Regions from separate parts of the Homo sapiens genome. Here region 1 is linked to region 2. Evidence: fine-mapped expression QTL. Tissue or cell type: whole blood. Region 2 holds a variant in brackets; the other region holds the start of a gene. All regions are shown on one strand. Distances are between the middles of the regions.

The links. PIP is the estimated chance that this variant, and not a neighbour inherited with it, causes the effect. A credible set is the group of variants that fine-mapping cannot tell apart.
Region 1: ZNF620 starts here. The variant in region 2 is the best candidate, but not a certain one, in a credible set for the expression of ZNF620 in whole blood (TOPMed, PIP 0.51).

What each region holds. Positions count from the first base shown.
Region 1 is chr3:40,503,350-40,508,728 of GRCh38, forward strand. ZNF620 (zinc finger protein 620) reads left to right here and starts at 2,690. Exons shown (of 5, transcript NM_175888.4): 1 at 2,690-2,789; 2 at 2,955-3,027. The coding sequence starts at 3,004.
Region 2 is chr3:40,480,822-40,486,200 of GRCh38, forward strand. It overlaps ZNF619 (zinc finger protein 619), which reads left to right. Exons shown (of 5, transcript NM_001145093.4): 3 at 1,042-1,195; 4 at 1,767-1,883. Among named protein-coding and RNA genes, the nearest start is that of ZNF619, 6.4 kb to the left of the region's middle. The variant C/T (reference allele first, on the strand shown) is at 3,207.

The DNA.
Region 1 (5,379 bases), 23 kb after region 2:
TCTTTCTAGTATGTATATATTTTTTAAATTGAGGTATCACTGACATACAATAAGCCATGCATAAAGTGTATGATTTGATAAGTTTTGCCATATGTATATGTCTCTCAAAAAATAACACAATCAAGATAACAAACATAATCATACCCCAAAAAGTTTCCTTATGCCCTTTTATAATCTCTCCATTCCAGCCTGCTCCTCTCCTGCCTCCAGCCCCAAGAAACCACCAATCTGTTTTCTTTTACTATAGTTTTCCTTTTCTAGAATTTTATATAAATGCTATCACACAGTATGTACTCTTTTTAAAGTTATTATTTTTTTTGGTGTGATGTCTTTCACAACACAGAATTATTTTGAGATTCACCCATGTTGTTGCATATATATCAGTAGTTCATTCCTTGTTATTACTGAGTAGTATTCCACTGTATGGATATGCCACAACTTAACTCAAATGATGGCCATTTGAATTGTTTCCAGTTTTTGGCTATTATAAATTAAGCTGTTATGAAAATTTGTATGCAAGTCTTTGTAATGTAAGGACATATGTTTTCATTTCTCTTGGGTAAATAACAAGAGTGAAATGGCTAGATAATAAGGTAGGTGTATATTTAATTTTTAAAGAATCTGCAAAGTTTTTCCAAAGAGACTGTGCCATTGTACATTTCCATCAGTATTGTATGGGTTCCACTTCTGATACATCTTTGCCTACACTTGATGTTGTCTCTACTTTTAGCTTTTCTAGTAAGTGTGTAATACTGTTTCACTGCGGTTTTAATTTGCATTTCTCTAATGACTAACAATGTTGAGCATCTTTTCAAATATTTAATTGCTTTCCATATATCTTCTTTGGTGAAGTATCTGTTCAAATCTTTTGCCTATTTTTAAAAATTGGTTTATTTTCTTATGAGTGAGTTTTGAGAGTCCTTTATATATTTTGGAAACAAGTCTTTTATCAAATATTTTTGGTATTTTCTCCCAGTCTGTGGCTTGTCTTTTCATTCTCTAAAAGTATCTTCTGAAAAGCAGAAGATTTAACTTTGATTAAGTCCAATTTATCATGTTTTTTTCCACTGGCTAATACTGTTTAGAATTTGTGGTGTATATGTATGTACGTTTATGTGCACCCACTCATGGTAAATGTTCATTTTAATAGGTTTAGCGAAGGGACAGTATGCACATGTATGTCCTTGTCATGCCATTGTTTCTGGAAATCTAATTATTTAAAACAAGTGCTGTGCATAAACTTTAAAGTGAAAATACTATAGATTTTATAAAATGAACTGTTTCTGTGACAGTTAAAATCTCTGTGCTAGGTGGCCCCACAATGGCTCCCAATGGTTCTCATATCCTGGCATTCAAACCTTGTGTATCTCTTCCCACACTGAATCATGACTAATCTGAGGAGAATGTATTGAGGAAATCATGATGCATGATTTCCAAAACTAGGTCATAAAAGCTTTGGCCTTGGCCTCTTGGATTGCTCACTTTGGGAGAAAGCTACATGCCATGTTGTGAAAACCCTCACATGGGAAGGAACTGACGCTTCCTGCCAACAACCAGCACCCACTTGACAGCCATGTGAGTAAACCACCTTGGAGGTGGATCCTCCAAACTCAGTCAAGCTTCAGATGACTTCAGCCCCACATGACACCTGACTGCAACCTCAGCAGAGACCCTCAGCCAGTACCACCCAGCCAAGCTGCTCTTGAATTCTGGGTCCACAGAAACTGTCAAAAGATAACAATGTTTATTGTTTTTAGCCACAAAGCATTAGAGTAGTTTATTATCCAGCAGTAGATACATAATATACTCTCCATGGCAGGACTTGTTTTGAAAGTGGTGGATAAATCTAATTCCTGTGGAAGGAATAACTAAAATCTGTTTCCAGGCTGGGCCGGGACACACATCCCAGTACAGGGCAGGAAAGGGCTCTAAGCCAAATGTTAATAGCTCTTTCGCTAAACTTCGAAAATTGTCCTTAAAAAAATCTATTTCCCTAAAGCACGCCACATATTGGAGTCCCAGCAGCACCTATTTTGTGTCTTCAAAAAACACAATTGGAAAACAAAACAATACAAACTCACGAGTACATACTATGTGCCAGGCACAACTGTAAATAATTTACCTATCAATTAACTAATTTAATGAATTAACCCTGAACAGCCTCAAGAGGTTGGTACCACCATCATAATACCCATTTAATAGACAAGGAAACCGGGGCAAAGAAACTTGCTGCAGGTCACACAACTAGCAAGTGGTGCAGCTGGGTTTCTGGACCTACGTAGTCCATACACATTCGGCCTTCTGAGTAATGGGTTCGCCTTTCCCCACACCCACTTTTCCCACTGCAGCGCACCCACACAATCCAGACAGTTTTGGCGCATGTGAAGGGCGCGATGGTCCCTTCATTATCTGGAAGGACACCCAGAGTGGCAAATGCCAGATAACCACGAATAATACCCAGGATAGTAACCATTCTGTGGCCTGAGCTGGCCAGACGTCATGCCCCGAAGGAGCTACCAGGTGTGGGCGCTGCAGGACCCCTGCCTGGGGCCGCCCGCTCGGGCCCGTGTTGTCTCAGGCAGTAGGGACACTGGCGCTGACGGCGGGGGTAGGAAACCACAGAGACTGGCAACTTCCCAGGTTCCTAGAGAGGAGGGGCATGGAAAACGCACTTCCGGCGGAGGGTCTCAAGCTTTCCCCGGTGTCGGCGGCAGGTGGAATTTCCACGCTTTATCTGCGCCTGCGCCGCGCGGGATTCGCGGTCCGAGCTGAAGAGGTTCGCGGTCCGGGTAACTGATTGGTTTTCCTGGGGCTTGTTCTGCCTGGTTTTGCAACCCCTTTGCTTTTTGGGGTGAGGAGTTGGCGGAAAGGAGAGGGGCCCAAGTAGCACAGAGGGCATTTGCGGGGTGCGAGGCAGCATCAATCTCACCGGTGCTTCTTTATTTTCTCTTCAGTTTCACTTCTCCGAACCCTGAGGCAGTGTGTGAAGCTGGGACGCCAGCCATGTTCCAGACCGCTTGGCGCCAGGTGAGTGAGCATCCTCTCCCTCCCTCCCACCCTTTAGATGTCAAGAGAGAGCAGGTGTCACCTCTGCATTCAGATCTTGAGTTGTGTAGGCCAGTGGCTTCCATTGTGCATCTGTCACTATGAGAGGGATGGAGAGGTGAGAATGCCCAAATTAAGACTAGAAAACTAGTGAGTGTGGGGGGATTGGTTGGGATTTGGCATTTGAAGCCAGCTTAAAAATAAAAATTATGAAATGTGGAAATCTGCATTATTACATCCAATAAAGACCCCTTTCACCCTAGTCCGCAGGCTTGGAGAAGTACTTACTTCTTCAGTATAGCAATTCTAGTAACTGTTTTGTAGATTCCATTGTATTTTCTACATAGGTCATCTATGAGTAAAGATAGTTTTACTCCTTTCTTTCCAGTCTGGATGCCTTTTATTTTATTTTGTCTTGCCTTACTGCACTGGCTAGAAGCATTATTTCAATATTGAACAGAAGTGGTGAGAGCAGATATCTTTGTCTTATTTATGCTTTTAAAGTGAAAGCATTCAATCTTTCACACTGAAGACTGATGTTCACTGTAGGTTTCTTGCTTTTTTGTTTTGTTTTGTTTTGTAAATGTCCTTTATCAGGCATTCTCTTCTAGTACTACTTTGGTGAGAGTTTTTATAGGAATGGATGTTGGATTTTGACAATTGCTTTTTCTGTGTCTATTTAGATGACCATATGGTTTTTTTTTTTTTTTTTTTTTGAGATGGAGTCTTGCTCTATCGACAGGCTGGAGTGCAGTGGCGCGATCCTGGTTCACTGCACCCTCCACCTCTGGGGTTCAAGCGATTCTCCTGCCTCAGCCTCCCGAGTAGCTGGGACTACAAGCACGCGCCACCACACCCAGCTAATTTTTGTATTTTTAGTAGAGACCAGGTTTCACCATGTTGGCCAGGATGGTCTCGATCCCTTGACCTCGTGATTCCCCCACCTTGGCTTCCCAAAGTGCTGGGATTACAGGCGTGAGCCACCGTGCCCAGCCTCTCTTTGTTAATGTGGTGAATTACATGATTTTTCTTTCAAATATTAAACCAACTCTGCGGTGGGATAAAACCGACTTCGTCATGGTGTATTATTATTTTATTAGTACTATATATTGAATTTAATTTGTTAAAATTTTATTTAGAATTTCTGTATCTATGTTTATGAGGTATTGATTTGCAGTTTTCTTTTCTTGTGATGTCTTTGTTCCATAGAATGAGAAATATTCCCTCCTCTTTAATATTTTGGAAGAATTTATGTAGAGTTGACTGCATTTCTTCCTTAAATGTTTGGTAGAATTCAACAGTGAAGCTATCTAGGCATGGGGTTTTCTTTCTGATAAGGTTTTTAAGTACAGTTTTGAGTCCTTTGGTAGATACAGGGGCTACTCTGGTTATCTCTTTTTATTTATTTATTTTTATTTTTTGACAACGGTTTTCTCTATGTTGCCCAGGCTGACCTCAAATTGGGCTCAAGCAATCCTCCCCGCTCAGCCTCCCAGGTACCTGGGACTACAGGCATGCATCACTACGCCCAGCTTAAATGAGTTTTGGTAACTTGTGCCTTTCAAGGAACTTATCCATTTTATCTAAGTTGTAGAAATTATTCACATAAAGTTGTTCATAATATGTGCTTATCTTTTATTACCTGCAGTGATGTCACTTCTTTTATTACTAATATTAATGATTTGTGTATTCTCTCTTTTTTTCTGGTCACTGGCTAGAGGTTTATGAATTTTATTAATTTTTCTTTAAGAACTAGCTTCTGGTTTCATTACTTTTCTGTTTTATGTCATTAGTTTTCACTTTGATCTTTAATGTCTTTTTTATATTTATTTTGTGTTAAATTTGCTATTCTTTTTTTAGTTTTAAGGGGGAAGCTGAAGTCACAGATTTGAGATCTTTCTTTTTTTTTTGTTTTGTAAAATAGGCATTTAGTGCTATACATTTCCTCCCAAGTACCGCTTTAGCATTATCCCGCAAATTCTAGTACATGGTGTTTTCATTTTCATTCAGTTCAAAATACTTTGTACATTCTCTTATGGAAGTGTGTTACTGACTTTACAAATATTTGGGGATTTTCCAGGAGTCTTTCTGTGATATCAAATTTAATTGCATTACAGTCAGAAAACATACTTTGTATGACTTGAATCATTTTGATTTTATTGAGCTTTCTTTTATGGCCCAGAATATGGACTGTCTACCTATCTACATTGTCTTATATGAATTTAGCCACTGCAGCTTTTTTTTTTTTCTTTTTTCCTTAGAGACAATCTTACTCTGTCTCCCAGGCTGAGTGCAGTGGTGCAATCACAGCTCACTGCAGCCTCCACCTCCCAG
Region 2 (5,379 bases):
TTAGATTTCTTCACTCAGAAGAGACTTAAGTACAAAGAGAAGGTTGTTGACATGATGAATTGAGAAAGACTACAGTGTGAGTCAGAGATAGATGTTTTAATGGGACTAATTTATATAAAAGTGGTCAGTTCATTTTGAACTTTTTGCTTCCTTATACAACCTTGTAATAAATACTCAAAGAGGACTCCTTTTAGTCTATTTCAAAGTGCTTAATATTGCTCATTCCCATCATCTGAAAATGGAAATAATAATTCTTATTTCACAGATGTGCTATAATGATTGAGCAAATTGATTTAAAAGTAACTGACACAGGACAAAGCTTTAAACAACCTGTGATGGTGTCCTTCTTCCCTGAGAAGCTGGAGGTGGTTTTAGTGGGAAGCAGAAAGAGAGAGACACATAATGAAGAGGACAGCATTGGCAGGTCAGACAGAGCTTAGGTGATCAGTGGGCAGATTTCTGCAGAAGGATGGGAGATTGCCATCCTGTCCTGGAGTGAAGTGTGTTAGGAGACAAAGAAGTAACACTGCACATCACCTTCAAGGGAGAACTATTAATAGCTTCTGATAAGGCAAGATGATAGAAAGGGGAGAAATATCCAGGATGAAAGGAACTTTATCCTCATGAAATCACTCCTCTGTCTGTAGCAGAAGATGTAGAGGAGGAAGACCAGAAAGAAGCTGGGTGGAGGGCCCTGATACGTGCTTCAGGATGGATGGAGGCAGGGTGAAAGACGGTTACCTGCTGTGGTCGATTTAGAAAGCATGCCAGAAAAATATACCTGGCCTGTGGAACCAGACATGGGTTGACATGATCACCAGGCAGAGAACAACAGGTGCTGGGCTGTGTACTTAGGATGATAATATTAGGGCCCCAGAGGTATGCACATGGAAAGTTGGAATGCTGGCTCGGGGCTGCCCCTGCTGGGGTCCTGTGTGGCTCTCCTTGCCAGTACAAACCTTCCATGGGGCTCAGTGCCATGGATTCCAGTAAATTTATCCCTTTCCTGGAATTCAGGCCTCTCCCTCTGTTCTTGTGCAGGGCTTGGGCAGGAACCTGTTGTTTCAGGAGCCAGTAACCTTTGAGGATGTGGCTGTGTACTTCACCCAGAATGAATGGGCCAGCCTGCACCCTACGCAGAGGGCCCTATACAGGGAGGTGATGCTGGAGAATTATGCAAATGTGACTTCCTTGTGTAAGTCCTCCTTCCTCTCTGAAACTCAGCTTCTGCCCTTGGGAGCTCCTAGATTCCTCCTTAGCAGAACTAGGATCTCTTTAATACCATCAGAATTGATGCCCTATGGGCTGAGCTCCCTAATCCCCAGTGCCAGGGGTAGCTGGATGGAGAAAGAGCTCGGTTCACTTTGGTGTTTAACAGGACTTTTCTCTTCCCTGGTTCCTAATGGAGACCCAACTGCAGGGGGCTTTCCTCTGGATACAGAGAGAACTGAGAAGGTTCCTGGTGCACTGTCTTCATTCCTTCCATCTTCCAGTTCCCTGGAGCTGATCTTGGCCCTATTGCCTATGTGTGAGTCCCCTAGGGCCCTCGTGTACACACCCCCCAGTGACTCTGGGAGCATTCTGTCCTCTTAGAGGCCAGAGTAAGCTTCAAGCCCTTCCTTAGATTCTGCAGATTCACTCCTCCCTGACTTCACTTAGTCTCCTGGGCCATCCTCTTCTATTTTCATCTGGCAAAGCAGAGTGTAGTCTGAGGGAGGTCAGTGTTGATTCTCCTCAGCTTCATGTTCCTTTTCTTTCTCCTGTAGCAGCATTTCCATTCCCCAAACCAGATCTGATATTCCAGCTGGAGCAAGGAGAAGCAGCATGGGGCCCAGATCCCTGGACACTTGCTGGGGGAGAGGCCCTGAGAGGCATGTGCACAGGTGAGCAGGAGAGCCTACCATCCTCCTTTCCAGCTTTGCCTCCTCCTTTCTTTTAACAATTTAGCATGAAAAAGGTTTTTCCTTGTCATATGATGGTTGTGGGGATTAAAATAGTCACTCTTATTCAAAGAAGTGTTGCTTACCAGAACTTCATCCCCGAACTAGAAAAGACGAGTCCCGCCATTTTATTTCTGCCATTTTTCTTTGTAAAGCTAAAGGATTTCAGGCTGGATGTGGTGGCTTACACCTATATCCGAGCACTTTGGGAGGCCAAGGTGGGAGGGTGCTTGAGGCCAAGAGTTCAAGACCAGCCCGAACAACATAGCAAGACCCTGTCACTACAATAAATAAATAAATTAGCTGGGCATGGTGGCATGTGCCTATAGTGCCAGCTACTCAGGAGGCTGAGGCTGGAGGATCCCTTGAGCCAGGAGTTTGAGGTTGCAGTAAGCTAGGATCACACCATTCCACTCCAGCCTGGGTGACAGAGTGAGACCCTATCTCTAAAAAACAAAAGATTTCAAACAGGCTTCTGTTGGTTCGTCAGCTCAGGAATATAAACACAATATAGTAAGAACTTGGTTTTGGTTTTTTTTTTTTTTTTGAGATGGAGTCTCGCTTTGTTGCCTAGGCTGGAGTGCAGTGGCGCAGTTGTGGTTCACCACAACCTCCGCCTCCTGGGTTCAAGTGTTTCTCCTCCCTCAGCCTTCTGAGTAGCTGGGACTACATGCGCGTGCCACCATGACTGGCTAATTTTTGTATTTTTAGTAGAGATGGGGTTTCACTGTGCTGGCCAGGCTGGTCTCGAACTCCTGCCCTCTTGGTCCGCCCCACCCTCGGCCTCCCAAAGTGCTGGGATTACAGGTGTGAGGCACCATGCCTGGCCAAGCACTTGGTTTTTAAAAAATAGATTTATTTATTTATTTGTTTGTTTATTTTTTGAGACAGAGTTTCACTTTTGTTGCCCAGGCTGGAGTGCAATGGCGTGATCTTCACTCACCGCAACCTCTGCCTTCCAGGTACAAGCGATTCTCCTGCCTCAACCTCCCAAGTAGCTGGGATTATAGGCATGTGTCACCACACCCAGCTAACTTTGTATTTTTAGTAGAGATGGGGTTTCGCCATGTTGGTCAGGCTGGTCTCGAACTCCCAACCTCAGTTGATCTGCCCACCTCAGCCTCCCAAAGTGCTGGGATTATAGGTGTGAGCTACTGCACTTGGCCTATTTATTTATTTTTTGAGTCAGAGTCTTGCTCTGTCACTCAGGCTAGAGTGCAGTGGCACTATTTCGGCTCACTGCAACCTCTGCCTCCCAGGTTCAAG[C/T]GATTCTCCTGCCTCAGCCTCCCAAGTAGCTGGGATTACAGGCGCCCGCCACCACACCCGGCTAATTTTTGTAGTTTTAGTAGAGACAGGGTTTCACCATGTTGCCCAGGTTCGTCTTGAACTTCTTACCTCAAGTGATTCTCCTGCCTCAGCCTCCCCAAGTGCTGGGATTACAGGCATGAGCCACCGCGCCCAGCTAGAACTTGTTTTTATAAGAACATTTTGTGTGTGTGTGTGTATAAAACTATATATGTAAATGGAATTTTTCTAAGTTCATAAACACTGAATTTTACATTAGCTTTTGAAAGAAAGCTTGTTTATGTATTGGGAATGAATGGTTTTCTTTTTTGAAAGATACTGAATTGAGTTAAATGTAAAGACCAATCAGAGATTTGGTATACAGCTTTCCTTATTCTATGGGCTCTGTTATCATATTCTGTCAATCTTTTATGCTATTCAGAGCCTCTGTAAGGCAAATGCTCCTTTCTAATTTCCCCACTTTGCCTTAATCAATACCTTAAATTGATTTCAGCATTTCAGATCATGTAGGGGCTTTCCCAGTATCCTTCCTGCAGTTGTTAGTGTTTCCCCTTGCCACAGGTGTACATTTTCTATTTAGCCTGCCAGATGAATCACATGAACACCTGAAGTGTGTCTAGTGCAGCTGAGGAACTGAGTTTTTAATTTTATTCCATTTTAATTAATTTACATTTAAATAGCCACATGTGGCTAGTGGCCACCTTTTGGGAAAGTGCAGCCTTAAACAATGAAAACAGCAGCCTCAATCTGTTTTTTGTAGTTTATAGATTAGTAAATTTCAAACTCTCGTATGTATCAGAATTACTTGCAGAGCTTGTTAAAACACAGATTGCCAGGTGCCACCTCCAGAGATTCGAATTCAGAAGACTGGTGTGGGGCTGAGAATGTGCATTTCTTTTTCTTTTTTTTCAAGATAGGGTCTTGTTATTTTGCCTAGGCCAGTCTCAAATTCCTGGGCTCAAGTGATTCTTTCACCTCTGCCTCCTAATTAGATGGGACTACTGGCACACACCACCAAACCCAGCCCCATTAATATGCATATCTAACAAGTTCCCAGATGATACTGGTCCAGGGACCACCATTTGAGACCACTGTTCTTGACAATCTAGAACCATATTCTTTAAACTCTGGGTTGCAACTCATCAATGAGTTGTTACCAGCATTTAAAAATTAGACTACATTGTATTAGGTGTAGATAAAGACTAAAGTAGTATAAAGTCTATTGTGAATGCATCATTTTTTTTTTTTTTTTGGAAACAGAGTCTTGGTCTATCCCCCAGGCTGGAGCGCAGTGGCGCAATGTTGGCTCACTGCAATCTCTGCCTCCTAGGTTCAACCAATTCTCATGCCTCAGCCTCATGAGTAGCTGGGATTACAGGTGCCCGCCACCACATCCGGCTAATTTTTTGTATTTTTAGTAGAGATGGGGTTTTGCCATGTTGGCCAGGCTGATCTCGAACTCCTGAAATCAGGTGATCCACCTGCCTCGGCCTCCCAAAGTGCTGGGATTACAGGCATGAGCCACTGTGCCCGGCATGAATACATCACTCTTAATAAGGACATTGTTTTGTTTCGGTTTCAGCTGTGTGTGTGTGTGTGTGTGTGTGCACATGTCTGTATTGTTTTAGGATCCAAAATGTGAGTCATGGTCAACAAGCCTCAAAAAACACTAAGATGAAAGTTTCATTTGTCAGATCTTTGGTGCTTGACAGGCAAAAAAGGTTTCTATGTTGTGGTGCTACCAGTGAAAGCATGATCCCCATACCCCCGCTCCAATTGCCATCTCCATTATGGGCAGGTTCTTGGCTGGGCCTTTTTTCCTTTCAAAGGTCAGTCTCCCAAAGGACAGCACTTGGGTTTTAAAATTGTGGTCTTCTCATGAACCCTTTATAAGCAGCAGTGTTACAAACTGCTTTCTGTCCAGCCAGGCTTGTGATAGAGAACTAGAGAGCATTTCTTTAAAAATTACAGAATATTTTAAAGTATTTTGACAGGTTTTATGCCTTGATTGGACTTTGAGATCCACTGTTGTAGACAGTACCTCCCAGCCCTCTGGATACTATGTGGTGCTAGAGCTGCCTACCCATCTTTCTCTTCTCTGGTTTAGAGATTGCTTTTCTCACCTTTGGTTTCC